2 separate regions of the Homo sapiens genome follow, and region 2 is linked to region 1. Evidence: fine-mapped expression QTL. A gene starts in region 1. The other region holds a variant in brackets. All regions are shown on one strand. Distances are between the middles of the regions.

The links. PIP is the estimated chance that this variant, and not a neighbour inherited with it, causes the effect.
Region 2: its variant is the best candidate, but not a certain one, in a credible set for the expression of MGRN1 in whole blood (TOPMed, PIP 0.72).

What each region holds. Positions count from the first base shown.
Region 1 is chr16:4,623,249-4,626,142 of GRCh38, reverse strand. It overlaps MGRN1 (mahogunin ring finger 1), which reads right to left and starts at 1,317. Exons shown (of 17, transcript NM_015246.4): 1 at 1,095-1,317. The coding sequence starts at 1,182. RefSeq lists silencers at 826-1,055, 1,296-1,475 and enhancers at 528-1,057, 1,241-1,535, 1,058-1,588, 1,546-1,655.
Region 2 is chr16:4,695,954-4,698,847 of GRCh38, reverse strand. ANKS3 (ankyrin repeat and sterile alpha motif domain containing 3) reads left to right here. Exons shown (of 18, transcript NM_133450.4): 13 at 1-48; 14 at 249-421; 15 at 786-871; 16 at 1,432-1,515; 17 at 1,744-1,831; 18 at 1,952-2,337. The coding sequence ends at 1,820. Among named protein-coding and RNA genes, the nearest start is that of NUDT16L1, 3.8 kb to the right of the region's middle. The variant TG/G (reference allele first, on the strand shown) is at 1,241.

The sequences.
Region 1 (2,894 bases):
CCTTACAAAACCTGGGCAGAGCAGTTTTTCAAACCTGAGTGGACGTAAAACTCACATGGGGAATGGGTTGAAAATGCAGGTTCCCAGGCCCCAAGGGGTCCCAGGCAGGCCCTGGCATGTCTAGCAGTCCTCCCCCACTTGTGGACCTGGCCCACACTCAGAGAAATCTGGCCTGTGGGTGTCCGGAGACACCCAGGAGACTGAGACATCAGATCAGATGAGACGCCAGGATCTGAGGACCCAATCTAGATGTCCCCATGATGCCCAAGTTCTCTCTCCTCTTCCTTCTCTCCTTTCCACCACAAAGAACCCCACGAGGAGATGGAGGGTGAGACTTGGAGCTAGATGCTCCCAGTCAACACATAACTCATCAATAGAGGCAGAAAGAGAGCTGGGAACAAAGCTACGTGGGAGCCCCACAGCTGGTCCCGGTCCCAACTATGCTTCCATCCAGCTGAGATCTTGGCAGTCACTTCCTCCTTGGTGTCTTACGTCCCTCAGCCATAACACAGAGGCCCGAGTATCGGCTGGGTCCTCTCAGCAAGGACCCTGGCCCCTCCCGATCAACTATAATCGTCTCCTTGGGCCCAGCCCCACTCCTCCAACCCACACACCAAGAGCCTCCGTCCTGATGGGAGGGAAATTGCCCAAACCACTGGCTCGGCCTTCACACCAAGCCACTAAAGAAAGCGAAAGCCGGCCCCCGCGGTGAGGTCAATCTGATGACAATGAGAGTTTTCTAGGCAGAAGCGATGCGCCGGGACCCGCGCTCAGCACCCCGCCCCGCCCTCGGGGTTTCCCCCAGGAGCTCCCCCCTGTTGCAAGGACGGAGCTGAGGTGCCCGGGGCGAAGGGACTGCCCCAAGGTCACCCAAGCCGGGCAGTAGCAGCGCCAGGTACGGCTCGGGCAGGTTCCTCCGGGGCCCCCAGCCACGCCTAGGGATCGGGGCCGTGGGGCCGCGCGAAGGCTCGGGGTAGCAACGAGGCCCGGAGGGGGCCGAGCAGGGCGCCCCGCCCCGAGTCCCCGCCCCCGCGCCCGCCGGGTCCGCGTTCCAGCGCGTGCCTAGCAGTCCGCGCCTGGGGCCGGGCGCTCACCGGACTTCGGAGGGTAGCGATAGGCCGAGTTCGCCTGGATGTCGATGTCCTCCACCCCCGCGATGCGGCGGCTGAGAATGGAGCCCATGGTGCGCGGCGCTGCCGGGCAGAGGGGCCAGGGCCGGAACGGGAGCGGCGACAGCGGCGGGGTCCTCACGCGGACATGGCCCGGACCAGGCCGCACGGACGCTCGTCCACGGCCGCGGAGGCGCCTCGAGCCCCCACCCCCGGCTCGGCCCGGGGACCGACGCCACGGCGGCCCTCCGCCTCCCGGTCCCGGGGCACGTCGGGAAATGGAGTCCTCTCGCCGCCGAAGGCGCCGGGAAGCAGCGCGGGAAGCCCGTCTGGGAACTATCTTTCCCAGGATGCTCCGTTCCCAGGCCCTCTGACGGGTTGACAAGCACTCCGGGACAAACCAAATGGACCTAAATTCAGAGGGAAGGAACCAACCAACCACAGGGCAAATGGTCCTTCCCTCTGCGTTCCAAGCGCTGCACTAACATATTAACTCTTTGGTCATTTCCTCATCTGTTCGCTTACAGACTCTCCTGGAGCCCCAGCGCCTTCCACTTGCCCCCTCTGAAATAGCTCCCTGAGTCGCTGTGGTTCTCCCCACTCCCCTGAGTTTGTCTCCCGCCCCGACCGGCAGAGGGCGTAGCTGCACCTGCCACCCGGAGCCCACTTGCAGGGTGTGCACGGAAGAAGTGAAGCACCTGCTTTGGCCTTGGCCAGAATTTGAGGACTACCATTTGGGGACTTCTGAACCAGGTGTGGTTCTGAGAGCTGTATAGGCATCAGCCCGTTTTACAGATGAGGAAGCTGGGATCCAGGGGGTTAAGCAACCTCCGGCCCCCTGACAAGGCTGAGGCCCGGTGCAGTGGCTCACCTGTAATCCCGATACTTTGGCCCCACGTCTGGACCAATTAGTTTAAAGACATAATTTCACAGCCTCCACGGAAGGCAGTAGACTCTCCCACATTTTACACACAGGGAAACTGAGGCACAGAGGAGAGAGAGCCGCATGAAATGGCGCTGCGGGCAAGATTGCAAGAATCGCTTTCAGAATGAAAACCTCGCAGTGTGCAAGGTGTTCCCTGGCTTTTGAGTCACACACAGCTCTGCAAATAGATCGCTTTTTACCTACTTTTCAGTTGAGGAACTTGGATTCTGAGCAGAGTGATTTCCCAAGTCAAGCCTGCTGTACCAAGAAAGCAGCTAGGGAGGGCAAGGCAGACTGAGTCTCCAATGGTCAATTCACCACAGTCCATGTGGAAATGCTTCTTATACCCTTCCAGAGACCACAGTCCAGGATCCAGTCTTCCTCTTTTTTTTTAAATTGTTCTGTCGCGCAGTCTGGAGAGAAGTGGCACAATCTCAGCTCACTACAGCCTTTGCCTCCCGTGTTCAAGCGATTCTCGTGCCTCAGCCTCCCCAGTAGCTGGGATTACAGGCATGCACCATCACACCCAGCCAATTTTTGCATTTTTAGTAGAGACAGGGTTTCACCATGTTAGCCAGGCTGGTCTTGAACTCCCGTCCTCAAGTGATCCGCCTGCCTTGGCCTCCCAAAGTGTTGGGATTAGAGATGAGCCACTGCACCTGGCCTCAGACTTCCTCTTGTCAGGGGAACTTGGGAAGCCAAATGAGTACGGCAGCCAAGAGACTTGTGTGATTATGATGCAGGTCCAGGTCTTGGAGGAGCCTGATTAAATCTCCCTGCCCCACAACCAAGATCCACACTTACTGAGCATTATGTGCCAGGCATCATGCTGAGGGCTCTGCACATATCCTCTCATATAA
Region 2 (2,894 bases), 73 kb before region 1:
GACCGGCTGGAGGCTGAGATGCAGGAGCTCGCCATCCAGCTGCACAAGGTGAGTGGCTGGGTGGGGGATGGGGGGGCAGGGTGACACCCGTGAGTTGGCTCCATCTCTGACAGAAAAGGTGGGTGCTGTGTGGAGGGGTCAGGTGGATGCAGTGGGGAGAGGGCCCCACACACAGGACAGGGCCGTGGCCAAGGGTCTGGCTTGACCGGCCACCTCCCAGCCTCCCCGCGCCCCCCACCCCCCTGCAGCGCTGCGAGGAGGTAGAGGCCACGCGGGGCCAGGTGTGTCAGGAGCAGGAGCTGCGCGCCGTGGTGGAGAGCTGCCTGCTGGAGCAGGACCGCGCCCGCGAGGACCTCCAGGCCCGGCTGCGGGAGACGTGGGCCCTGGCCCGGGATGCTGCCCTCGTCCTGGACCAGCTGCGGTGAGTGGCTCTGAGCTGCCCTGGGCTGGGTCTCCAGTGGTCAGCCACCTGGCCCCTGGGCCCCCACACATCCTTTCCTCCTGATTTTGTAACTGAGGGGTGGATTTCAGGGTCTGGAGCCACCCCACCCCCATTTCATCAGGCCCTTCCTTCCTGCAGGCAGACCCAGGCAGGAGTTGGGTCCGGGAATCTGCACCGGTCGCCCTCCTGCTCTTTAGTGCAGCCTCATGGGGCACTGGCCCAGCCCATGAGGGCCAGCTGCAAGGACAGGGCTGAGCCCCTCCCTCCCCTAGAAGGTCTGAGGTGGGGGCTCTGCAGCGGCCAGGCCTCTGCTCTCACCAATATTTGTTTCTGTGTCTGGCAGAGCCTGTCAAGCTGAGCTGTCATCTCGAGTGAGGCAGGACCAGCCCCCTGGTGCAGCCACTCTGGGCCTAGCCGTCCCCCCAGCTGGTAAGAGCAGTGGCCTGACTCCGCACTGGGCAGAGGGGAAGGTGGGGGAGCCCTGAAGCCAGGTTTGACCCAGTGGGCTTGGCCTGGTTCTCCGGCCGGCAGCCACTCTCCCAGGTCCCTGTGTGCACATGATCCCAGAGTCCAAGGAAAAGAGGGGGCCCTGGGGACCCAAGCCCACTTCCTCACCTGTGACAGGAAAACTGCCTATCCCCCAGGGGTAGGAGGTACTCGAGAAAGGCCCTGTGCCTTGGCTGGCTGTGCTGTGCTGAGACCGCCAGTGACTTCTGTAGCCTCCAGCCAGGGCCCAGACCCGGGTCCCCACCGGCAGAGCTTTGCCTTCTCTCGGGCTGACCCGGGCCTCGTAGTGTT[TG/G]CTCAGCCTGTGGGAGGAAGGGCACAACAGGGCTTCCCTGCCTCGGCCTTGGGAGGTTGCTTAGACACTGTCAGGCGGGTAGGGAGGTTCTGATCCAAGCAGGTTCTCCTGGTTGCATGGGCTCAGAATAAAGCAGGGCCTGTGGGGACGCAGACCCCCAGCTAACTCGGTCCCTGCACCTGCACCACAGACTCCAAGGGCTGGCAAGCGTCCCTGCAGGCCATGAGCCTCCCCGAGCTCTCGGGAGCCCTGGAGGACCGTGTCCGTGAGATGGGTGAGTCTCCGGGGACCAGACGACTGAGCGCTCCTTTTGTTTCCGAGGGAGGCAAAGGGACCCCTTTCCAGGGAAAGCGGGTTTGTGTCTCTCTACCCCAAGGCTGACCTCGGGGCTGGGGCCATAACGGGTGAGGGGCAGGTCACATCCTGCAGCTGAGACCCCGGGGCAGCACCACCCAGCCCTCCTGAGCCTGGCCGGGAGAGGCTCAAGGTCATCATTCCTCAGGGCAAGCACTGTGCTTAGTGACCCAGAGCCTGGAGAAGCTGCAGGTGCTGAACGGGAAGAAGTGGCGGGAGACCTAGCCTGCGGGCCGGTGAGTGTCTGCCAGCCTGGATCCCGCGTGGTGGGAGCAGCAGGGCCTGTCTGGGCGGCTGCAGGTGTGGGTATGCACCCACCTGTCCCCCTCCCTTCTCACCGGGGCTTTTTCTTTCAGAATCTGACGTTGGGTGATTGGTCCACCCTGAAGCTGTGTGCCAGGGAGTGAGGAGGACAGTGAGCAGGTAGCTGCCATGTGCAGCCCAGGCCCAGTGGGGGCCAGAGGATCAGGCCCCGGGAGCAGCCGGCAGACAGAGGCAAGACGGGGGCTGCGGCCCTGGCTCGGCAGCTCGGGCCAGCACTGAGGCGGGACGAGGGCCTCACCCAGAACCTCGTGGTGAGGCCCAGAGTTCATGGGCTGCCCTGGCCCATACCAGGCAGGGCCCTGGGGGGAAAGTGTATCCATATACACGCACAGGTGCCAACTGAGGTGGGACCTTAGGAATGAGGACTGGGGCACCTGGAAAATGCCATTTTTTGGAAAATAAAATTTAAGAACAGCTAGTGAAGGGCTCAGTTCTGGTCACATGACATGAGGCACTGGCCAATGCAGCAACCCTGACTGCCCTGTCCTCTGCTGTTCAGGGGTGTGTCTTTTGCTCCTGGAGCCCAGACAACTCAAGATAAGGCTTTGAGAGCCAAGAACATCCCCAGCCCGCCGTAGCACAGGGCCTCCCCCGGGACATGCTGCTCTCACACCGAGCTCTGAGATGGAGCTGGGCACACTGCCTCCCTCACCGGGCCAGGCATGGGCTGTGCAAATTTTCTGACGATGCCGCTGGAGTCTTTCCAGATGTGGGGCTGTAGGAGACCACGAGGGATGGCTCTGCTGCTGTCCTTCTGCACAGTAAGCCTGCACTTCTACACCATCCCCTGGAGCTGCTTGCAGACAGTGGGGAATGGTGGGTTTGCAAAGCAAAGCAGGTCAGCCCAGGTGCAGCCAGGGCCACCAGGATCAGGAAGGGGAGCCTGCCCTGAAGGTCTCGGCCCAGACGCCCCAACCTGGCTGATGGGCACAGCATTCATGCTGGGAGTGCCCCCAGTAAACACTGGGGAACAAA